Linked DNA regions of Homo sapiens: regions 1 and 3 are each linked to region 2. Evidence: fine-mapped expression QTL. A gene starts in region 2. Each other region holds a variant in brackets. All regions are shown on one strand. Distances are from middle to middle. Region 1 overlaps ATG7 (autophagy related 7). Region 2 holds the start of VGLL4 (vestigial like family member 4). Region 3 overlaps TSEN2 (tRNA splicing endonuclease subunit 2).

Region 1 (8,183 bases), 91 kb before region 2:
ACATGGTGAGCGCACACTTAAACAGTCACTAGACCTTCCTCCAAAGTGGTTTTGCCAGTTTCCATCCCCACTAGGAGCAGTGTGTGGGCCCTTCCTGCCCCACATCCTCACAGACATCGGGCATCGCTGGCCTTTAGCTTCAGCTCTCCGAGGAGGTGGGGTGCACTGTCTCTTTATGGTTTTGATTTGCATTTCCCTGAGGACTGCAAACTGCACGTCTTTTCTTATTTGCCATTATATTTCCTCTTTGGTGAAGTTTCTCTTCCAATCTTTTCCCCAAAAATCAAGTTTTTGTCTCTTTATTATTAAGTTGTAAGAGTTCTCTTTATTTTCTAAATACAAGTTCTTTTAATATAGAGATATTTTCTCCTAGTCTGCAACTTGCCTTTTCATTTTCTCAGTGGTATCCTTCCAAGATCAGAAATTTTAATTCTTGTGAAATGCAAACCCATTTTTTTTTCTGGTTAGTACTTTTTGTGTCTTAAGAAACCTTTGCATTTCCTTTATTATGAGTAGGGCTGTGCATCTTTTTTTTTCTGTTTAAGGGCCATTTGCTTATTTTTTCTGAGAACTGGCCGTGTCTTTGTCCACTTTTTAAAAATTTGGTCTATTGGTCTTTCTCTTCTTGAATTTTATTTATTTCTTTGAGACAGGGTCTCACTCTCTGTTGCCCAGGCTGGAGTGCAGTGGTGCAGTCACAGCTCACTGCGGCCTCTACCTCCCAAGCTCACACCATCCTCCTATCTCCTGAGTTGCTGGGACTACAGACACATGCCACTATGCCTGGCTCATTTTTAAAAAATTATTGTAGAGAAAGGGTCTCCTTATGTTGCCCAGGCTGGTCTTGAACTCCTGGGCTCAAGTGATCCTCCCGCCTCAGCCTCCCAAAGTGCTGGGATTATAGGCATGCCTGGCCTCTCTTCTTGATTTCTAAGAGCTCTTTGTCTATTACCGAGATGAGCCCTTTATGGTATGTTGTTATGTTTTCTCTCAGTTTGCCTTTTTGACTGTTTTCCCGTGCATATTGCATGCATGTGTTTTTGCAGAGTCCAGTGTATCCATTTTTTTATTGCTTATGGATTTGGGATCATAGGCCTTCCCTACTCCCAGGCTATAATGAGCTTACCCGTGTTTGTATCTAGTATTCTTATGGTTTCATTTTCTCTAACGTTTGGATTTTTATCCCATTTGGAGTTGATTCTAACATGCGGGGTAAGGCATGGAATCAATTTTATCTTTTTCCAAGTGACTCTCTACTTCTCTTCATATCAGTTTTTTAAAAAGTCTATCTTTTCGTAATGAGCCGAGATGGCACTCCCCAGGCCATTATCATTAAAATCCTTGATTTCCACATGTTCTTGGACATGGTCTTCTCGTTTCTGTACTCGTCGTGTCCTGCGGGCCGTCTGAGTGTTCCGTGCTGACGCACCCTCTCCTCCTCGGGGGTTTCATGGCGTCTCCCTCGGCCCATGGTGGGGGCTTCTCACCGCTCTTCTGTTCGGAGGGTTTCCTGGGTGTGTCTGCTTCCTGTTTTTCCACATAGCCTAGAACCAGCTCGCCCGGCTCCAGAAAACATTTGTTAACTTTGAAAATTGAGACTTTGTTAATGTATTCACTTTGAGAAAGCTGACATCTTTATGGATGTTGAATCGTCCTATGCAGAAACAAGGGGTGTGGCTCTATCTACTCCAGTTTACGTCTTTCCAGGAGAGATTCTTCTAGGACTGTCGCAGCTGTTTTAGAGGCTTCATATGGATTCTGTACATCCGATGTTAGGTTTATTCCCATGTGTTTAGCTTTTTCACTGCTTTTATAATTTTTTTTAAAGTTTTTATTTTTATAGAGAGAGGGTCTTGCTCTATTGTCCAGGCTGGTCTCAAACTCCTGGCCTCAAGCAGTCCACTCGCCTCAGCCTCCCAAAGTGCTGGGATTACAGGCACGAGCCGCTGTGCCCAGCCAATATAATGGGTTCTTTTCTTTTCTTTTTTTTTTCTCGAGGCAGGGTCTCACCCTGTCGCCCAGGCTGGAGTATAGTGGTGCGATCTCAGCTCACTACAACTTCTACCTCCTGAGTTCAAGCCATTCTCCTGCCTCAGCCTCCCAAGTAGCTGGGACTACAGGTGCCCACCACCACGCCTGGCTAATTTTTGGATTTTTAGTAGAGACGGGGTTTCACCATGTTGGCCAGGCTGGTCTCGAACTCCTGACCTCAAGTGATCCACCCGCCTTGGCCTCCCGAAGTGCTGGGATTACAGGCGTGCGCCACCACGCCCGGCCTCTTTCATTCTGTTTTGAACTAAACATTGTTTGCACTGCATGTGGTGGGTTATAATTGGTTGTTGTCAATTTTATATCTTGCTCTTACTAAATACTTTTTCATTTGTATTCTAAGGATATCTTAGCACTTATTTTATTGGGGTTTCCAGGTGTGCTTTGATATTACCTACAAAGAGATCATTTTTCCTTAGGGTTGAATGTTTTTAAAGGTTTGTATTACATATTGCCAAATCTTTTAAAAAATATGGTACCAATTTATACTTCTCTTGTGGCAGTGTTTTGCCATACCCTTGTCGGCACTGAGTATTGATATTTTTTAAAATGTGCCAGTTTACTATGATCTTCACTAAGAGGACATTCACTGTGCCCCTTCTCCACACCAGTTGCACTGCCAAGGACACAGCTGCGGTGAGGACACAGTAGAGCCTGCAGATCCCAGCCCCCAGTCCCACTCCAGTCCCTGTCCCTATCCCCAGGAGTCCCTGTTCTGGTTATTTCTTGAGGTTTCAAATGAAGATGGCTGCTGCCCTCTGAGCCCAGCCAATGGGACGAAGCCAGTGGAGAGCCCGTCCCTGCCCCAGAGATTCGCTCTGGAAAATCCCTGAGTGGTTTTGTAAAATGCATTTTACAAAATAATAATCCCCGCACAATAAGTCTTCTGGGTGTCTCGCAGGATCCCCTGCACAGCTCAGGCACTGCCAGCAGCCGCATCCCCTCGAGTGGCTCAATCTGTCCAGGAGCAAGGGGTCAGCCAGGCACCTTCCAGGGCCAGTCCCAGGCCACCCAGTCCCAGTGTGGCTGAGCACCTATGCCTCTTCCCCATAGCTAAAAACCCAGTAAAATGGATGATAAAATGGGTAACACCTCCCTGAAAGTTTCTACTTTCCTATAAAGCCCAGCCCCGGCCCAGGCCCGAGTCCTCTTATGAACAGAACAACCCCAACCACCCATTTGCAGAGGGCACTGCTGTTTGGTACTGACCCTGCCCTGCCCAGGCTGGCAGCCCTCCAAGGAGGCTGGGCAGGAGGTCCCGGAGGACACGGCCCACAATGCTCACCCTTTTCATTCTCCATCTTGCCCCATCACCTCCCACCTCGGCCCCTTCCTCCAGGCAGCCCGCCCCGCCCTTTTCCACACACCCCTGGTTCCCAGCACTGAAGCTTGCTTGCTGTGTGATCTCAGGCCAATTGCCTTACCTCTCTGGGCTTGTTTCCATCTTCACCTCACAGGTAGATGTGAGGTCACCTCACAGGTAGATGTGAGGAGTGAAAGAGGGAGTATTCGCAGCAGGTCTACACAGCGTGTGGCACAGAGCTGGCTACATGAATGTGTGTTCGTTGAATGGGAGAGTGAAAGAATGGATGGATTGTGCTGGCAAACCCTCCAGGGGCTCAGTTTCTTCCACTCGGACCATCAGAACCCAGAGATCAGATCCAGGAGCTCCTAAATGCAACCTTTGTTAGAAACACAGCTCCCCTGCCCTGCACTGCTCAGTCCCACCCTGGGGGAGTTTCCAGCCGCACTGAGGATGAGCTCGGTGGGGACCTGACCCAGAGATAGGGACACCTGGTCACTGGACCGCAGACCGGCCCATCCACAGCCTGGCTGGGCTGGCATCTAGACCTCGCTTGGCAGTCCCCTCCCAAGAGCTCAGATAGTTTGGCCTCGGGAGACAGGGGCAGTGAGAAGGCTGCCTCCCCTCAGCCTGGGAGCTGGGTCCTCAGGAGAGAGGAAATTTCCTTCTATTTATTTTCGACATCCTCGACTTTGAAAGCCAAGCTGGTGTTGATATTTACCTTGGCCAGGCCTCCCATCTCCCCGGGCCAGCCTCGTGTAAACATGCTGTTCCTTCTCTCAGCTCTGCTAGCACTGAGGTGGCCTTTTGCAACCAATTCTAGGAATTTGGAAGTCTGAAGGCGTAGGTTCAGGGACTGGCCCTCCAGGGAGCCCTGGGTGCCAGGGGCCCTGGGACCTGCTGTGCTGGCCTTGGGCTCTCTCCCTGGGGGCTGACACCAAGGACTGCAGGGAATGAATGGGCCTGGGCCCATGGGGGTGTCGGCCAGGGTGGCTCTTGCTGGGTCCCTCAGTTCTCCTCACAGCCACGTTGGGGCCTCCTGCTCCCCAGGTTCACTGCGAGGCTCAGACTCGGAGGACACGCATTGAGGGACTGTGGCAGGATCTGGCTGTCTCCACTGTCTTTGCTCCAGGCCACCTCCACCCTGGCTGGTGGGGAGGGCTTGCTCTTGAGCCAGCTCTCTAGTGTGAGTTGGGAGTGTGGGCAGCTGGACTACAGTTAGAGGGAACATGGAGCAGGTGCCCAGGGTGCAGCCTCCCAAGGCAGCACGTGCCCATGCCAGAATTCCTGCCCTCAGGGAGCTTGCCTTCCAGAGGGCAGGTGGACCACAAGGAGAACAAGCTGGCTTGGGGTGGGGGTGAGTGCTGCAGAAGCCAGGATGAGCAGAGGCTGGCTGGGTCAGGGACGGTCCCCCGAGGTGGACATGCAGGAGGTGAGCAGAGGCACATTCCCCAGTGCAAATCCCAGCCCTCCCCTGTTGGTTCCACCAGGTGGTTCACACACTAGTGACGCCTTGGCAAGTCTGAGATTTGGTTTCCTTGTACAGAAATGGGGTGACAGTCCCTCAGAAACAAGGGAGTGGTTCTGCAGGTGGGAGCTGCCATGACTGCTGCGGTTTTGAAGCATCTGTGTGCCCCCCACCGGGCAGTGGGACATCTCGGCTGAGCCTCTCCCCTTCTCCATGCAGATCTGGGACATGAGCGA[T/C]GATGAGACCATCTGAGATGGCCCCGCTGTGGGGCTGACTTCTCCCCGGCCGCCTGCTGAGGAGCTCTCCATCGCCAGAGCAGGACTGCTGACCCCAGGCCTGGTGATTCTGGGCCCCTCCTCCATACCCCGAGGTCTGGGATTCCCCCCTCTGCTGCCCAGGAGTGGCCAGTGTTCGGCGTTGCTCGGGATTCAAGATACCACCAGTTCAGAGCTAAATAATAACCTTGGCCTTGGCCTTGCTATTGACCTGGGACTTGGTCCTCCATGCAGTTTTTATTTCTTGTCACAGTGACTGATAGCCATCCCCCAGGATCCTTTCCCCTTGGCCCTGAGGGGGTGACCCAACACAGACCAAATGGGGAAATGAGCAACCAGCTCCTGCCCAGAGCCACTGCGGGAGGTGGCACCCTCATCCCCGGAATGTGCTGCCCACCGCACCGCAGGCTCCTCCTGTGGGGGCCCTGGGCATGGGTGAGGGTGGGACCCCGTGAGCGCACTGCACCCTGGCCCTGGTGGAGCGGGAGGAGGAGGAGAGCCGAGCTGGGTACGAGACTAAAGGGCCCACATGACCCAGTGACGCCAGATTTCCACCAAGGACTGAGTGAGCTGCTCAGACATGGCTTTCTGCCTCCCAGCCTGTCCTCCACTGTGGGCATAGCATCTGTGCCTGCCTGCCTGCTTGAGGGAGAGGAGTTTCTGCTGCTGCCTTGAGCTGGGGGGAAGAGCCCAGGGGCAGATCCTGGCAGCTGCCTGGATGGGGCTCCTCCCTGCCCTTATGAGCAGGCCAGGCCCAGAAAGGCCGAGCCTGGGCTGCCTTCCTGCCCCAGCCGAGGGAGGGGTCAGACGGCTCTACCATGGGTAACTCAGGCAAGAGCTGGTTTTCCTCTTTATTCTGGGTGTGTGCAGCTGTGAGGCCCCAACCCAGGAGAGGCCATGGCCTAGGTACCTGTGACCACCCTGCCCCCGTGTAGAGGGCATCGTCTTTCCTGCTATTTTATTCTTTCAGCTTTTGTCTTAGGCCCAGAATCAAAGTGAAAATTGAGTCGAGCTGACCCTTACAACAGTAGGATTTAGTAGGGTAGATTTCAAATGAGGCTTCGCTTCTCCCAAAGTAGCCAGTCCAAGTTCCAGTGGCTGTCGTTCAGCTCATGGGAGCTTCATGGGGACACAGCCGGCACAGGTGCAGGGCCCGAGTCCGCCCACCCAGCCTGGCGCTGAAACTGCACACGTACACTATGTGGTTTAAGAGCACTTTATTATTGTTCTTAAGGCTACTTTTAAGTACAAAAAAAGATGGCCTGCCAAACCTTTTTTTTTCTTCTTCCAGGAAAAACAGGCCACAGAGAATGGTATATTACAGATTTACACACATGAAGAGAAGGTCAGAGCGCACTGCAGGCAGCGCGGCTCTGGGAAGAACTTCACGGAGCCCCTTCTTAGAGCAGGGAGGGGGCTTTCTCAGTGAAATGTTTGGTTTTCTGCTGCCTCCTCTGCCCCAGGCCCCCCTCCAGGGTACTGCCTATCCCAGATAGGTCAGTGCACCAGGGACCCGGCCGCCAGCACCGCCGACCCCTCCCAGAGTGACGCCCTTGTTCACTGACAAAGAGACCTGTCCCAGGAGTGTCCTCCACCGAGCCGGTCAGCTGTGGGTGGTTTTCCTGTTACGACGCTCAGTAGCCTGTAGCAATAACAAACTCGTGGCTATGAATGCAGATGCAGTGTTCTCATAGAATAACTGTTCCTGCACTTTTACAGACAAATCTACGACAAAAAAAAAGATCAACTTTTTTTTTCCGAACAACAAAAAAAATGAATGATTACAATAGGAAAGGGAAAAATTAAATAGCTACATATCATTAACAAATTAATGTTCTTCAAAAAATACCTACAAATTTCTCTGTACATTCTTTACGCACAGCGTAACGATGGTCTCAAAATCACCCATATAGAAAAGTGTTCTCAACGATTTTTCCTACAGAAAATATAGGGGCCTGAATGCCAAAGCTTGGAAGCCCAGTACAGTGGGAGTGAAATGTGTGCGGGGCAAGGAGAAGGGCTTTTCTTTCCTCCACTTTTCAAAGGCCTGCAGCCACTCTGTGACTACAAGAGCCAGTCCTCCGACCTTTTCACCCAGTGCCAATTTCCAAAATTCAACAGCTAAAAACTGTAAAACCGGGGGTCATACGGTGTGCAGAGTCCACAAAGCCTTGCAGGTGAGGTGACCACGCCCACGTCACCTGGTCAGGTGCCATCGTCGTGAGCCTCTGGTGGGCCAGGTGGGACACAGCACACCCCAGGGGGAGGGGATAGAAACGCTCATTGACCAAAAAGGAGCAGCTGTGACCTCCACAGCTGTGTCTGTCATGCTTGCTTCATCTAATTTCTAGTTAGTAGCTATTAATATAGCAAATAATAAATGCAGTAATAACAGTATAAAGTCAGAGGAATGTATACTGCCTTGGCCCCAGCGTACGAGGAAGCGTATAAAACACCATATCACAGATTGTCTGTCAGTAATCTGCTGTTCAGCCAAGAGAGTTCAAAGGGAGCAGTTTCTGCATGTAGGGAAGTTGGAAGACACAAACCCCACCTCCCCTGGGAGCTTGTAACAAAGCAGACAGGGATGCAAAAATAAATGATGTCAGCCTGCAGCCAAACTCCAGCATCCCACACCGCAGCTGACCCACTGCTCATCGCGAGGGCCTGCCAGGAGCTGGCCTCCCGCACTACTTGTGAGTAAAGTGAATATCAAATACCAATCTTAGAGTACAACTGTACCAGCAGTAAGTATATCTAGGACTGTAACTGACAAAAATAAACTAATTCTGAAAAGAAGATAGTAAGTATTAAGGTTTTTGTTTACTGTCTATATAATTAATAGAAACCAGCTATTTTTTCTCCATTAAAACATGCATCACGTTTAAAGCACTATGGAATCCTCCAACCTCAGCTCTAGTCTAACAAACTGCAGTGTTCAGAGAAGATAAAATGCCCGTGATTGGTAGAGTCTGCAGTCCAGTTGCAAGCACCTGAAATCTAGAGAGAGAAAGACCTATAACCTGTATGAGACTTCCCCTTCCAAAGCTGTATTGTCTACATTAAAAAAAACAAAAACAGTAACAAC
Region 2 (8,183 bases):
GACTTCGATTCTTCCGGCCCTCTCCCTAACGTCTCCTTCTCCCACCCCAAACCTGCTAATTGTGGTTAACTTTTTCCCTTTATTCTTTTCAGTTATTCTTGCAGACAACTATGGTGGAGGGCAGGAGCCAGGAAGCAGTTACCAAGGAGGGAGTCCACATCTAAGCAATATGGAGTCAGTCAGGAAGGAAGACCTTGTATGCTACAAGGTAAACGGCTAAAAAGATCGATTTGCGTATTAAGTCACAAGAGAGGTTTAAGAAAGACAGTACAGGCTGAGTGCGGTGGCTCATGCCTGTAATCCCAGCACTTTGGGAGGCTGAGGTGGGTGGATCACCTGAGGTCAGGAGTTTGAAACCAGCCTGCCCAACATGGTGAAACCCATCTCTATTAAAAATACAAAAATGGGCCGGGCATGGTGGCAGGCACCTGTAATCCCAGCTACTCAGGAGGCTGTGGCAGGAGAATGGCTTGAACCCGGGAGGCAGAGGTTGCAGTGAGCCAAGATCGCGCCATTGCACTCCAGCCTGGGGGACAAGAGCGAGACTTCATCACCAAAAAAAAAAAAAAAAAAAAGACCAGACACATGGTTTATTTTAGAGTAGAGCTATGTCTCATACAACTAAGGAATATGGTATAATTTAGCTGGTAAGAATAATTAACCATCCGCATCTTAATTTTTAAAACTAAAATGTCATAAAATTAATTTGTCCCTTATTCTTAAGGGGCATGAAACTTGACTGTGCCCTAAATGAAATCAAATGTTGCCTACCAACAGTACATTCCATTTTCCAAACAACTTCCCTGGAATGCTGGGGAGCTGATATGTTTAAAACGAATATTCTCCAAGTCCAAGTGTTGGATTTTAAAGAACCATAACCTTTCCAACTTTTCCTACAAAAAAATCCCGTGTGTGATTTATGCCCATCTTCAAAACACCCTCTGGAGTTCAGACCAGATGTGTGCAGTGTTTACACTGAGAAAACCACTAGGACATCAACAATTCACTATAAACACCACTCAAATTTTGCTGTGCTTTCCTTCATTTCCTCTGTATTTATTCTGGTGTTAAAATAATGTTAACTCTCATAATAAGGAAAATAGGAGCAGATGTTTAAACCAAACAGACTTCAGCCCATTATCCCATATAGCTACTCAATCTTCAAAATCAAAGTTTCTTCCTCCCAAATACCGAGAGAGAAGAGCAGAGCAGAGCACTCTAGTTTCCTGGGTGTTGCATGCTACACAACAACTCGACCTGGGCTCGCTGTCCGTAAGTTGGTCCTCACCAATCGGAGACAGGAAAAACTAATCTGGTATCAATTTCCTAACAATCTTATATTTCTCTCTTAGGCCATTATGTTTTGTTTTTAAAATATCGTATTACTTGTTGGCAAAGACAATACAACAGAAATTGCCTCAGAAGTTTTTCTTTCTTGTTGGGGGAAGCGGGGATGGTTAAAAAAAAAAAAAACAAGAAAAACAAAACCCTGACTACAATGTGTGAATGTCACGGGAAACAAGCCCAGCAATGGCTGCTTACGGCTTTCTAAAGTCGGCTGCCTTTTTTAAGTGAGTTCAGAAGCAAGATGTTACTTAACACATCAGATGCAAAGAAAGAAATTCACGAAAATTCTCATAGCAGGAACTAGTAGGAGTAAAGAAAAACAAATACTCTTTTTAAAAAACGTTAAATATGAGATCCTCATCCATAGAGTTTTAAAAAACAACGTGAATGAGGGTTGTTGTTGTTTTTTTTCCTTGAAGGGGAAAAATACTCTTGAAAGGGTGAGTTTTCAACTGATTAGGAAACAGGCCTGAAGTTTTTAGATTAAAAAAATACAAGTGAATCACCCTCCCAAGTTTTTGTAACTGTTTTCTTTTTCAAGAGAAATGTCCCGTGTATTATTGGAGAAAAAATGGAAACTGCTCCTGCTGAATGAGAAAGAGAAGAGTCCCGGATGTGTGTGTGGTTACAACAGAAAACACTCTTCCTGCCAGGCCGAACTCCCCCGGAGATGCCCTCGGCGGCAGACCCAGGGCCATTGCCACTTTTTCAAATCGCACGTAGAGGATGTCCGAGGGCTTAAGAAATAGATTTTTCTCTGACTGCTACCAGAGACAGTTGGAAATACAAGACAGTGGGGGAAGCACCTCGCGGGCAGTAGGAGGTAATAAATAACAGTTCGGCGCGGCTCTCTCTTTTTCAGGGCAGGCTGGGGGTCGGGGTGTTGTGTAATCGCTCCCACAGGGAGCGGAGCGCGAGGAACACCCCCCAGTGTCAGCGCTCCCCGGGCTGCACAGGAAGCGCCAGCGAGACAAAGAGCCCGCCTGTGCTCGCTGACACGGTGCCCTTCCGGCCCCACGCGGGAGAGGGACATTCTCCGCTGTTTGGGACGCTCACTCGCGAGCACAAAAACTCGCTGTAACTTTGGCTCCCCCTCCGTGAGCTGCAGGGCGCCGTGGCCCACAGCAGGGTACAGTAGACGGTGCAATCCTTACCAGCCCCTCCCCCAAAGAGGCTCAACTTTTACCGGCGTCCTACAAGTCCTTCCCCTAAAGACAATATTAACGGAAATCAAAAATACATACATTTTAAAGAGTTAAAAATGTGAGGCGCGAGTACGTTGCAAGCAACGAGCAAACTTTGAAGGGTTTCTACTTCACTGCCTCCCCGTCCAGCCCCCTCCACCGCCCCCCGCAGCCTGAGATCCGAACACACTCGGTGCCGAACCGAACCTAAGAAACGCCGGCCTTTCAAGTGCCCTACACCCCGGAGGAGGACAGCGGGCGCTTAGAAGGCAGGCACCCAGCACACTGAGGAGGAGTGGCCGGGACGAGCAACGGGCAGTAATTCTACAACGGGACATCTACCTTCGTAGCACAGAATGCCGATATTGTTGTTCATCTTGTCCAAGTACTGATAGTTCAACAGGTCCATCTTCATAAATAGCATTTATTGGGCTAGCAAAGAAAACCAGCTCTTTGCTTTTGCCCCAAAAGAGTTAAGTTTCAAAAATCAATTGTTGCTGAGTAGCTCCTGGCTCTTCAACTTCACAAAGGCAGAGGCCCAGCCTCAGACTATCAAAACAAAGTATGCAAAAGTTAAAAAAAAAAAAATCAGGCACAAAAAAATCGAGCTCACACGAAACCCTTCAAGGGCTTACTGGTAGACGGTGTATGTACTGTATCCCCGATCGAGTATGAAAACAGCGTTTCAGAAGTCCTTACAAGTCCTTCCTGGAAATGGAAAAGAGTGAAAAAGAGAAACGCGCAGCCCGTTTCCTAGGACAAAGCGGCGCCGGCCCCTCTCACAGCCCGCTGCAAGCCGGCAGCGCTGACATGAGGGCTATGCTTGGCATGACTCCTATGCCGCCGCTTCCTCTTCCCGCAGGAGGCCGAGCATGCTCACTGCGCCGCGCTGCCGAGGCAGGGAGGGCTTCTGCACAGGATCAGCCTCTCAATGTAGCAAGTGTTGGAAAGAAAGAGAAAGGGGAGGGGGAGAGACTCTAGAGACGGGGCCTTGGCAGAGTGGCTCTTGACAGGAAGCAGCCAAGCCGCTGCAAAACCGTAGGAGGAAAAAAGAAAACCCAGGAAGTTTCTTTTTCAGGAGCTAAGTACAAAGTAAAAAATCCATCATGGAAGCAAACTCCCATGGAATGCAACTTTCGTGAAACTTCATGTTGGGGTTTCGGAAACCCAAAGTGCTAGTGATGCATAAGCCATATATATATATATAGTGTCTTTGTTTCTTTTAAAGATTGTTTTATAATATCCATTTACACTTTAACTGGATATTTAAATTTCTGATGTTAATGTTACATATAGCTTCTTCCATAATCCCCATAACAACTGAGATGGACAGGGCAAGGAGGGTATCACCCTTTCACAGCAGAGGAAACAGGTTCAGATGGATTAAATGACTGGCCCACAGCCCCCAAAATAGTTGACAGAACTACTTTTAAAGTGTTTTTTCCCACCTAATGTTATAATTTTATTTAAAAAAACGAGGGGGCCGGGTGTAGTGGCTCACACCTGTAATCCTAGTCGAAGCAGGCGGATCACTTGAGGTCAAGAGTTCAAGACCAGCCTGGCCAGCATGGTGAAACCCCATCTCTACTAAAAATACATAAATTAGCCTGGTGTGGTAGCGCACGCCTGTAGTCCCAGCTACTCAGGAGGCTGAGGTGGGAGAATTGCTTGAACCTGAGAGGAGGAGGATGCAGTGAGCCAAGATCGTGACACTGCACTCCAGCCTGGGCAACAGAGTGAGACTTTGTCTCAAAAAAAAAAAAAAAAAAGAAAAGAAAAAAAGGAGACAAGGAGAGGAGAAGAGATGGAAGAGTGTTTAAGCAAATAGGGCTATAATATCAAAAATTAAAAGTGTACTTGAAATTATAGAGGGAAAGGGTAAAATTATTTTCATTTGGCATGTATGTCACCCACCTGTGTGTAAGAAGCTAGTGGCATGCAGCTGTACTATTTGCTATTGGAAGAACTTGGGGCTTAAACTTTGATTACCCAGTGCCTAGCACAACCAAGTTCAGGTGCCCAAAAACTGTTTACTGAACGAGTGAACCACTGAATGTTCAGTTTTCAGCACATCAAGAACGTGTTAACAAAATAGAAAAAAAAAAAACAAAAACTAAACATTTGAATTACTATTCTAAAAATATATTTTTAATATTCCAAAATAATATTTGAATAAATAATTTGAAGGAGTTGTATGTTAAAAATCCAGCAATAGGCCAGGCGCGGTGGCTCACGCCTGTAATCCCAGCACTTTGGGAGGCCGAGGCGGGTGGATCATGAGGTCAGGAGATCGAGACCATCCTGGCTAACACGGTGAAACCCCGTCTCTACTAAAAATACAGAAAATTAGCCGGGCGCGGTGGCGGGCGCCTGTAGTCCCAGCTACTCGGGAGGCTGAGGCAGGAGAATGGCGTGAACCCGGGAAGCGGAGCTTGCAGTGAGCCAAGATTGCGCCACTGCAGTCTGCAGTCCGCAGTCCGGCCTGGGCGACAGAGCGAGACTCCGTCTCAAAAAAAAAAAAAAATCCAGCAATAGTTGCATTGGGTTTATTAGGCACACTCATGGCAAGGTGTTCTAATGAAATCTTACTTGGGAGTCCGGATGCGGTGGCTCACGCGTGTAATCCCAGCACTCTGGGAGACTGAGACGGGCGGATCACTTGAGGTCAGGAGTTTGAGAACAGTCTGGCCAACATGGTGAAACCCTGTCTCTACTAAAAATACAAAAATTAGCCGGGCATAGTGGCATGTGTCTGTAATCCCAGCTACTAGGGAGGCTGAGGCAGGAGAATTGTTTGAACACGGGAGGCAGAGGCTGCAGTGAGCCAAGATTGTGCCACTGCACTCCAGCCTGGGTGACAGAACAAGACTCCGTCTCAAAAAACAAAACAAAACAAAAAAACTATATGACATCTAAATACTAAATACTGTTGCCGTCATTGCTGCAACAGTAATCACTGGGGTGACATCAGGGGAAGTAAGTAATAGGGGAATCAAGATTTCACAAGCTTTCATTTATAAGAATATTTATTGACACTATATTACATGTAATAAGCTATAGTGAAAGATATGTATCCTATCAATTGTAATTAAAATACTTAATGGTATTTGGTGGGGAGGGTTGAAGAAAACTCAAAACTCGTAACATCCAGTATACATGAGATCATTGCACTGAAAACAAACAATATCAGGTATCAGATTTAAATTTAACTGATAGTTTTGGAGTACTCTTACTGTGCTACGTTTTTACATAAATTCTCAATCAGAAAACTTTATCCATCATTGTCCCACATGGAAGAGAGGTGGCTGCACATTAGAACCAGGGGGGAGCTTTTAAAAATCTTGCTGCTGAGGTTGCATCCCCAACTCATCTGAGGTGGGAACCAGCAGCAGTAGCTTCTAAAGTCCCAGGTGATTCCAATATGCAGTCAAGGTTGAGAACCATTGCTTTCATCTAGGGAGGAAAAAAAAAAAAACCCTGCCTTAAGATATTTCATTTTATTCACTTATTTTGACATGAAGAATTTTTTTAATAGTAATTTAAGCAAATGATTCAAACAATACCATTGTAGAAAATGAATAAAATATTTGGTAACGTCCCTTAAGGGACTCAGCATCACTTAGAACAGCAGTTCTCAGCCTCCGGGTGGCAACCATTTTCGTGGACACCGTCTCACAGGTCTACCTTGACTATTGTAACATTCCCAGCCACAGCCACCACGTCTTTCCCGCTGATCCGGGAGGCTAGCACGGTGCTACCCAAGTGTGATCCAGAGGGGTTCGAGCACCAGGTGTTCCTAGTCCCCAAAAGCTAGATACAGAAACGGAGAATGAACATTTAAAACTTTTATAGCAATTCGATAGACTAATTTTATGTCTCTCAAATCTTAATATTAAAGAAATTTGAGGGCTGTAGTTTTCGTATTTCTAGTTATAGGGCTGCATTACATTTTATAAACTATCAGTCTGCAACAAAGTCTTGGGGAAAAATGAAACAAACCTGGTTTCACAGAGAAGCTTGTGCTCCAGAGGGGCCAGCTACAACAGCCCGCCTCTGCAGGCTGGGAGCGCCTCCTGGACCGGCTCTAGGCCTTTCCATCCCAGCTCCTGACAACTTTCACCTTAGTTTCAAGCACACTGGATGACCTGCAGTGAGTTATTCCACAAAGCACATCAGTATGCTTCTCGGTGTGCAGGACGTCTCTTCTTTCCCAACCTGTCTACTCAGCAAACATCCACTCTTCCTTGAGACTTGTCAGAAAGCCCCTCTTGTCCTGTGAAATCTCCCTACGATCCCATCCTACCATCTCCTCACACCCTACGCCAAGCTATCCTTTTACAGGGTAAGTAGTCCTTATCCAAAATACTTGGACCAGAAGTGTTTTGGATTTCGGACCTTCTTGGATTTTGGAATAGTTGCATTATACTTACCAGTTGAGCATCTCTAATTTTAAAGTCTGAAATCTGAAATGCTCCAATATGAGCATTTTCACCTGAATGTTGTGTCAGCACTCAACACTGTTCAGATTTTGGAGCATTTTTCATTTCAGATTTTTGGATTAGGACGCTCAACCCATACCTTATATGTGCTTCTTTCCTAGCCTAGATCTTCGGAGCAAGGACTATGCCTTCCTCACCTTTTCGAGGTCAGTCTGGCAGAAGTCTGGCAGAAGCCTGGCGCATGGTAGGCCATCAATAAATACCAGCTGAATAAAATCAGTAAACATCTAAACGGCAGATTCTTCATTTCCCCATCCCTACTTCCAGCACACTCTGGATTATCTTACTCGATGTCATTAGGTGGCTGTCAACATCTCTTGGAGACCACAGGTCCTTGCCTTTAAGAAACACCATGTAGATTCTGATTGTACTTCAGGGTACAATCAGCTCATCCATAAAAAAAAAAAAATACTAGAAAATATCAATCCTTCTCAGATTCATTCATAGGATAATATATTCATAATTAAAGTAGCAACAGGATAGTTTTGTAGGGAATTGGAAAGATGGGTCTAAATTTTATCCACACACACAAATGAGATGGGAAAAGCTAGTTCTTTTTCTACGAATGAATAAGTTTGATCTATCAAATATTTAAAACATAAAGCAAAGAATATATTTTGGAGTGTTACTGGGTAGAGACTAGGTAGGACCAGACAGATACTGTGGATATAGGAATCAGAAATCCAGGCCAATGGGGAAGAAGTGGATTACAAAACAAACATTACTGAGAAAAGAATCCAGATAGCACTTTGCCTTATACTGTACATCAAAATAAATCCCAAATGTTTTAAAGATTATTTAGATGCTTTTAAAGTAAGGTTTTTGCTGCAAAAACTTACAAAACTATAAGGATATGTTCAGACTATCTGATGTGGAATAGGAAAACATTTGCTAAGCCAGAAATAAAATTTTTAATCAAAGACAGAAGCCACCAAGGAAGATGTAGAATTTGATTGAGAATACAGATTTTATGCTTTTATACATCTAAAAACACCAAAACCAAGTAAAGGCAAAATACAAAACTGAAGAATATATTTGTGTCATATATTACAGTGAAGGATAAATGTTCTTGGTATTCAAAGAACATTTAAAAATAGAAAGAACAAAGGAAAAAATTGAAAAACCACTTGATCTGAATAACATTTTTTAAGAG
Region 3 (8,183 bases), 850 kb after region 2:
TGATGTAATTGATTGCAGGTGAGGCCTGGGCATGAGGAGTTAAGGGTAGGTAAGCTTGAGGGCCACTGTGTGATGTACCACTCCCAGGTTTAATTTTCTTAATCTGCATTTTTCAATCATCATTCTAAATAACCTGCAGTGACTCCAATTCCAAACCAACCTTTGCATCCCAAACCTCTTGACAACTGACCCAGTCTTTCCTATATGTTTTTGTGCACCTCAGGCACCGCTCTTCTTTCATATCTGTGGAATGAGGATAGTACAGTCAGCTCTCGCTATCAGGTTCCGAATCTGTGGATTCAACCAATGTTGCATCAAAAATATTTGGAAAAAGAAATTTAAAAATATATATATATAACAATTATTTAGTATTTACATTGTATTAGGTATTCTAAGTAATCTAGAGAAGACTTAAAGTAGATGGGAGGATGGGCATAAGTTACATGCAAATACTACATTTTATTTAAGGGACTTGAGCTGCGGATTTTGGTAGGGGGTGAGTCCTGGAACCAGTCCTTCTGTGGATACCAAGGGATGACTATAGTACCCACATGTGCAGCACATGCAGTGAGTGCCTCTGGCATCTGGTACCTACCTATGACAGTTTCCTCTTCTTATTTTACTCACATCCCACCTCTTACAGCATGCTGTTCTGCCGCGACACTAAAGAACCTTCTTGAATATCCATTGCAGATATGGGGAATGGTAAATGCAGTCTTTTCTCCTCTGCTTTGCCTTTCGAGTTCAGCACAGGAGGACTCTTCCATGAAACTAGAGATCATCTGATTTGTCCTCTTGAATTTTTCCCCCTGGGGAAGTGAGCTCTACCTTCCCTGAGGGTTTCTTTCTATCTTTTCTAGAAGCTTCACGCTGGTATCTGTGAAGTCATTCTTGCAGGACATGGCCTGGGGAATGTCTTTACTTCTGAATTTTTTAAAATAGCTTTATTGAGATACCATATAATTCTGTAAAAGTCACCCTTCTGAAATGTACGAGTCAGTGGTCTTCGTATTCGCGGAGTTATGTAACCATTACCATCACTACAATCTAATTTTAAAACATTTTCGTCACCCTCCAAAATAAACCTCCTGTCTTATTAGCAGTCGCCCCCCCATTTCCCACTTTTCCCTGTCTCTGGCAACTGGTAATCTGTCTCTATGGATTTGTCTATTCCGGAAACTTTATCTTAATTGTCTCGTGGTCTTTTGTGTCTGACTTCTTTTAGCATAATGCTTTCAGGTGTTGAAGAATGTATCCGAACTTCATTCCTTTTCTATGGCTAAGTATTTGATTATATGGATAGACCACATTTTGTTGATCTGGTCAACTATTGATGGACATTTGGATGGCTTCCACTTTGATGCTATTATGAATAATACTGTTGTGAACATTCACATACAAATTTTTCCATGAACATATGTTTTCATTTCTCTTAGGTCTATACCTAGGGGTGGAGTTGCTGGATCATGTCGTAACTATGTGTTTGACATTTTGAGGAACTGCCAGACTCCTCCAGTCCTGTTCGATTTGAAGATGAAACTGGGCTTAGAGAAAGTGGGTTGTGCAAGGTCACACAATAATAATGGCGGCTTTGCATGTCTGGAAGGCCTACTGCGAGCCAAATTCCTGAGGGGTGTGCAGCCACATGAGCAAGAGTAACACAAGAACTTGGATTATGAGGGGTGTTTTGTCGCAGGGACCCTTCCATCCCACACACCTGGGTTGGAGTACAGAGTTCTTTCGATCAAGTGTCACAGCTAAATCTTGCCTTTTTTAGATGTGACAGCAGTCTGAGAGGGAAAAACGCTGAACAAATGAGGCAGACTAAAATACAACTCTTATTTGTTGAGAGAATTTATTAGAACTTCTTGAAGGTGGCCATTAAATCTTTTTTCATTTTTTTAAAATTCCGAATGTAATGTATATAAGTCAGCTGCTGAGCAGAGGTTATAAAAGTGAAAAATCCCATAAAAGTCCAAACCATTCCTGGAAGTCTTTCAAAAAGTGCCTTACTAGAGACCAACATCCTGCCCCCAAAAAGCAGTGTTTATTTTCAGTTTTAGAATAAATTATTGTCTCTCCAATTGAGTACTAAATGTGATAATTTAGTACTTGGGCTGAGGGATAAGTCAGCAAGCAAGGTAAAGCCTAGTCTAAATATGCTCTTAAGAAAATCTCTTAGGTTTCCTGTGAGCATGCAGTAGACGTGGTTTTGTTATAAACACTATACAGCAAGATGCATGCATAAATATAAAATGTACAAAGTAATGCTCAGTATGTAATTCCTTCAAGGAACCTTATTTAGAAATTAATCTAGCATGTTGCTGCTTAGAACAATGGCAATTCTAGGAAGGTTCCAACTTCCCGATTCTTCTTTTTCATGGTTATCTTTGTAATTGATGTATCATTTCCTCTAACTCCTCTTTAGTCTGTGTTTTTCTGTGTCCTCATATAATTCCTCAGCTTCTTCCTTGAGAAGTTGGATACTGATATCATCACACGTTGGATAAGCCTTTTCTTAATGGTCATGACACTCTTAAAGCCACTCACCTTCCCCTCCCTCAGTTTTGGCCACCTTCTTGACTGTTTCAGGCTTGATGGCATCCCTTGCCAATGGGATGCAAGTACTGAGTGCAGGAGCCACCTAAGTAATTAGTCTTATTTTTTCCCTTGTGAGGATTCGGAGTCATGTAGGTTAAACGTGTGTATGATTTGGCCGCACTGTATCTTCAAGCACCAGGTAAGCTCTCAGTTGAAATCAAGTCTAGACCTAGTACTGGGGGAGCAGCAGATTCAAGTTTCCCATCTCATTCCAGGACAGCTGCTCCTCGAGTGGAATGTCTTGCACCATTTACATTGTTTTCCCATGTATATGGTTACGTTTTCCTAGGTTAAGTGCATCTACTGTATCTCTGTGTCTGCATCACACAATATGTTCACATTTACTTCCCTCCTTTAGACATTAGTGGATAACAGCCAGTTCCGTTAGCTCCAACCTGCTTTCTGTGCTTCCAGCTATGTTATATACTTGTTTTGTCTCCTTGGATCCAATGTATGGCCCCAGAGGGACACGTACTGGCTTTGGCTTTCTGTTCTCCCTCATGGTGCTGGGTGCACAGTGGGTAATTCCGTTACTGCTCAATAACCCTTCACCGTCTGATTTTGAGAAAGAGTCATCAGACAAAAGTAGATAGACCCTGCCTGTGCTTTCAGCAGAATCTAGAGAGAGGGCATGGGCTTGGGAGTTCAACAGACCTGGGTCACCCGATGCCACCACACTCGGGGTCGTCTACAAATCTCTCTAACCTGAATCTGTTTCCTATTTGTAAAATGGTGTTGCTACTGCTCACCCTGTAATACTAATTATAGCTGATACATGAATGGTACACGCTATGTGCCAGGTACTGTTCTAAGCACTTTATGGATCTTAACTGTAAGATAGAGTCGTTCTTATCTTGATTTTGCAGGTGAGGAAACTAAATCACAGAGAGAGTCAGTGACTTTTGCCCAAAATCACACTGCTAGGAAGTGGTAAAGTTGATTCTGATGCTGATAGTCTGGCTTTAGAGTCCCTGCTTGAAGCCAGTAGCATTTGGTAGTATATAATCGACCCTTAAATAACTGCTGCTGTCATTATTATTTATTAATGTACTTTAAAAATTGGGAGCTGATTGACCCAATGTTTAGTGTGTATTGTAAGATCCTCTTGGAAAATGAAGTGCCTGCAAGATTTAATTTGTTGAGGACAGGGTCTCAGTTTTGTCTTTGTCTCCCCAGCACCTATGATTATTAGGAATTCCTGGTAGTAAATGTCTGTTGGGTGAGTGAAATGGAAGCACTCCTGGTAGACAGAAATCCTGTTGTGCTTGCTCTCAGGAGACCTAACATTGCAGCTTTGGGCATGTCACTAGGTCTCAGC[G/A]TTGTCAGCTGGAGTAGAAAGATTACCACTCATTTCCTGGGGTTTATTGTGGGGATTAATTGCAGTATTCTAGGTCAATATGATTTACATTGCTCACACAAACTGTTCTTACTGCTTTTAGTTTATTGCTTTATAAATACTCTATTTCTTCCCACAGACCACTAAGTTTTCTGAGCCTAGGTACAGATGTACTCACATTTTGGATCAAGGTAGTTATTGATTGTCTGTTTCTTTCTGTTTGTTGTCTACTCTTTAAAGAATACCTCCTCTGAAAAATGGCAGAAGCAGTTTTCCATGCCCCAAAGAGGAAAAGAAGAGTGTATGAGACTTACGAGTCTCCATTGCCAATCCCTTTTGGTCAGGACCATGGTCCTCTGAAAGAATTCAAGATATTCCGTGCTGAAATGATTAACAACAATGTGATTGTGAGGAATGCGGAGGACATTGAGCAGCTCTATGGGAAAGTAAGTGCAGGCAGCCTTGGTAAGATTACTTTCAGACAACCCTGAGCAAGCAGTCCTTTCCTTCTCCCCATCCCAGCCATACCCCCACACCAACCATGAACAATGTGTATTCTTTCCTTGCGGTTTGGTCCAGTTGTAGGAAAAGTACAATTTGAATTAGTGCCCAAAAGCCATATGTTAGGGTAATAGAATGACAGATGGAGCACCCCTGCCCACAAACCTTTATTTCAGTGATGAAGTAGGTTCAATGGATTGACTATTTTTTTTGTCTTTAGTTGTAAAAGCAATGCATGTTTGTTAAAGGAACAAAAAAAGTAATTTACAGAAATGTAATGGGTAAAAAAGTGAAAATTCCCCACTCACTCCCATCCCGTTCCCAGAGGTAGCCACAGCGTGGCATAGTGTCCCTACTCAGGCACGGATCAGATGGGGCTTTGGCATGGAGCTCCTTATCTGCTGCCTCCTGGTTGGGGACCTCTTCTCAGATGAGGACAAGTTCTAGTTTTTACTGTTTTCCAGCATTGATCAAGTTGAATGAAGACTGGTAGTTCTTTAAAAAAAATTTTCCATAATCTGTTCATTGCTGTGGGCATTTTTAAAAAACAGCTTTATTGAGTTATAATTTACAACTATAAAGTCCTCCCATTGTAAGTATACAATTCAGTGATTGTCATAAATTTATAGAGTTGCACAACTCTCACCACAGTCCAGTTTTAGAACATTCCCATCACCACAGAGTTCCCTTGTGCCCATCACACTTAATCCCTGCTCCCACTCCCGGCCCAAGGCAGCCACGGAATGGCGTCTTGTCTCCATAAATGTGCCTTCTCTAGACACTTGATAGAAGAGTGGGTGGCACTGGCCATGGTGAGGCAGGAGTCTCAGTAGGCCAAGGGCAGCTCACCAGGGAGGCCTTCATTTACAGTATATAACATTAAGCAAGAGGCTTTATAAAGTGCTGTATGCATTATTTATTCTTGGTTTTTGTTGTTGCTGGGTGTTTTTTTTGTTTGTTTTTTGTGACAGAGTCTTACCCTGTCACCCAGACTAGGGTGCAGTGGCATGATCTCAGCTCACTGCAACCTCTACCTCCCAGGTTCAAGTGATTCTACCACCTCAGCCTCCCGAGTAGTTGGGACTACAGGCGCATGCCACCATGCCTGGCTAATTTTTGTATTTTTTGGTAGAGACAGGGTTTCACCATGTTGGCCAGGCTGGTCTTGAACCCCTGACCTCAAGTGATCTGCCCACCTCGGCCTCCCAAAGTGCCGGGATTACAGGTGTGAGCCACCATACCTGGCCTCTTTATTCTGATTGTTAATCTAAATGGAGAAAGGGGTGTTTGTTTTATTCTTTCAATTTTCTGTGTGTTTAAATATTTTGTAATGAAAAGGGGAAAAATACATGTTGTTTTTGGAATCAGCAGGAATGAGAGGAATACTTCAATTCTGGAGTACAAAAGAATCCAAGAGGTTTTTTTGGACCTAGTGGGCAGCATGGCTCCTGCCTTCAGGCACACTGTGTTCCCGAACCATATGTAGAGAAGAAACTCTGCCTCTGCCTGCCCTCGGCTTATCAGACCTAGACTGAAAGCATTAGTTATGGGATAAATGAGGTGTGCTAAAAACTTACTAGTACTCTTGAAGCGATTAGAAAGGTGTTACGCTAAGAACATCCTTAGTCATCATTAGATAATCAGAGGGAAAATGTAAAGACATGAAAAGTGGGGCGAACCTCTTGTTAACTCAGATGGGTACAGTCGGCCCTCCATATCATGGGTTCCACTTCCGTGGATTCACCCAACCTTGGATTGAAGATATTTTGGGAGAAAAATTGCATGTGTACCAAACGGGGACTTTATTTTCTTATATTAAACAATATAACAACTATTTACATAGCATTTGCATTGCATTAGGTATTATAAGTAGCCTAGAGATGACTTAAAGTATATGGGAGGGCCTACGTAGACTATATATAAATACTGCACCATTTTATATCAGGGACTCGACCATCTGCCGATTTTGGTATCCACCAGAGGTCCTGGAACCAGCCCCCTGTGGATACTGAGGGATTACTGTATATTCTACCTCAGCTAAAAAACTGGTAACTAAGCATGAACTAACTTCATTTTCTCTCTTCCTGGAAGGGTTATTTTGGAAAAGGTATTCTTTCAAGAAGCCGTCCAAGCTTCACAATTTCAGATCCTAAACTGGTTGCTAAATGGAAAGGTAAAGTTGTTGTATCATTCAGTTCTTTTGACAAATTAATCATTTTCCTTTGTTTTTGATCTTATATCTCAGGCTATATAGTAAAATTCTAGAGAAGTAACATGTACACTGGCAGTTTTACTGCCAAAGTTAGCTAGAATAATTCTAATCAAAGCAAAAGGGTTATGATTGGGTGACAGTGTGTTTAATTTCTAGAATTATCAAGTGTTAATTGGGCTTTTCTGTTGTTAAGTGTTTGCTTAGCAGAGTACTATGCCTATGGCAGGTACTGGTAGTTAAGTACCTGCTCACCTGTGGCACTATGCAAAATTTTTAAAATTTTGTTTCCAGAATTAGAATTTGTAATAGCCATGACATGTATGTGTGTGGTTCTCCCTTGCTGATTCTCTTTAATTTATAAATGTTTTAGAATATTTATCTAAGGAATTCTCATGGTAATTACTTAAGAACCAATACCAGCATGTTAAAACATAATTAGAAAGGATCTTTTAAAGGTTTTATTGTAAGAAAATATACAGATTAAAACTGCACTGAGATAACATGTCAACAATCAGGCAGAAATCCAAAAGTCTGACAATATACTGCATTGGTGAGGACTTCAGAAACAGACCTTCTCTTGCATTGCTGGTGGGGTGCTTGTGGTACCACCCTCATGGAGGTGAATTTGGCAATGTCTAGCAAAATTACCTATGCATTTACTTTGTTTTCTTTTCCCCCATTCCTCTCTTTCCTCAGTCCCTGGTAACCTTTATATGTTTTCTGTCTATGAATTTACCTATTATAGATATTTCATATATAAATAACAATCATACAATATTTGCCCTTTTGTGTCTGTTGCTTTCACTTAGCATATTTTCGAGGTTTGTCCCTGCCATAGTGTCTATCAGAACTTCATTCCGTTTTATAGTGGAATAATATTCCATTGTTTGGACATAGTGCCTTTAGCTCATCTGCTGATGGACACTTAGATTGTTTCTGTATTTTGGCTTTTCTGAATAATACTGTTGTGAATATTTGCATACACGTATCTGAGTCTATTTTTAGTTGTTTTGGATATATACCCAGGAGTAGAATTAATGGGTCATATGATAATTGTCTGTTTAACATTTTAAGAACTAGCTAAACTATTTTCCACATTGACCGCATCATTGTACATTCCCACCAGCAATGCACCAAAGGTTCCAATTTCTCTACATCCTTGCCAACACTTGTTTAAAAAAATAATAGTCGGCCAGGCGCGGTAGCTCACGCCTGTAATCCCAGCACTTTGGGAGGCCGAGGCGGGCAGATCATGAGGTCAGGAGTTCGAGACTAGCCTGACCAAGATGGTGAAACCCCATCTCTACTAAAAATACAAAAATTAGCCGGGCATGGTGCTGTGCACCTGTAATCCCAGCTACTCAGGAGGCTGAGGCAGGAGAATCACTTGAACCCGAGAGGCAGAGGTTGCAGTGAGCCGAGATTGCACCACTGCACTCCAGCCTGGGCGACAGAGCAAGACTCCGTTTCTAAATAAATAAATAAATAACAGAGCAAGACTCCATTTCTAAATAAATAAATAAAATAAAATAG

The links. PIP is the estimated chance that this variant, and not a neighbour inherited with it, causes the effect.
Region 1: its variant is fine-mapped to the expression of VGLL4 in whole blood (TOPMed, PIP 0.98).
Region 3: its variant is fine-mapped to the expression of VGLL4 in caudate (GTEx, PIP above 0.99).

The regions. Positions count from the first base shown.
Region 1 is chr3:11,549,772-11,557,954 of GRCh38, forward strand. ATG7 (autophagy related 7) reads left to right here. Exons shown (of 21, transcript NM_001349232.2): 21 at 5,040-7,894. The coding sequence ends at 5,072. VGLL4 (vestigial like family member 4) reads right to left here. Exons shown (of 5, transcript NM_001128219.3): 5 at 6,298-8,183. Among named protein-coding and RNA genes, the nearest start is that of VGLL4, 90 kb to the right of the region's middle. The variant T/C (reference allele first, on the strand shown) is at 5,057.
Region 2 is chr3:11,640,564-11,648,746 of GRCh38, forward strand. It overlaps VGLL4 (vestigial like family member 4), which reads right to left and starts at 3,352. Exons shown (of 5, transcript NM_001128219.3): 1 at 2,874-3,352. The coding sequence starts at 2,955. RefSeq lists enhancers at 1,936-2,305, 3,496-3,575.
Region 3 is chr3:12,485,607-12,493,789 of GRCh38, forward strand. TSEN2 (tRNA splicing endonuclease subunit 2) reads left to right here. Exons shown (of 12, transcript NM_025265.4): 2 at 4,178-4,383; 3 at 6,530-6,611. The coding sequence starts at 4,195. Among named protein-coding and RNA genes, the nearest start is that of TSEN2, 5.2 kb to the left of the region's middle. The variant G/A (reference allele first, on the strand shown) is at 3,920.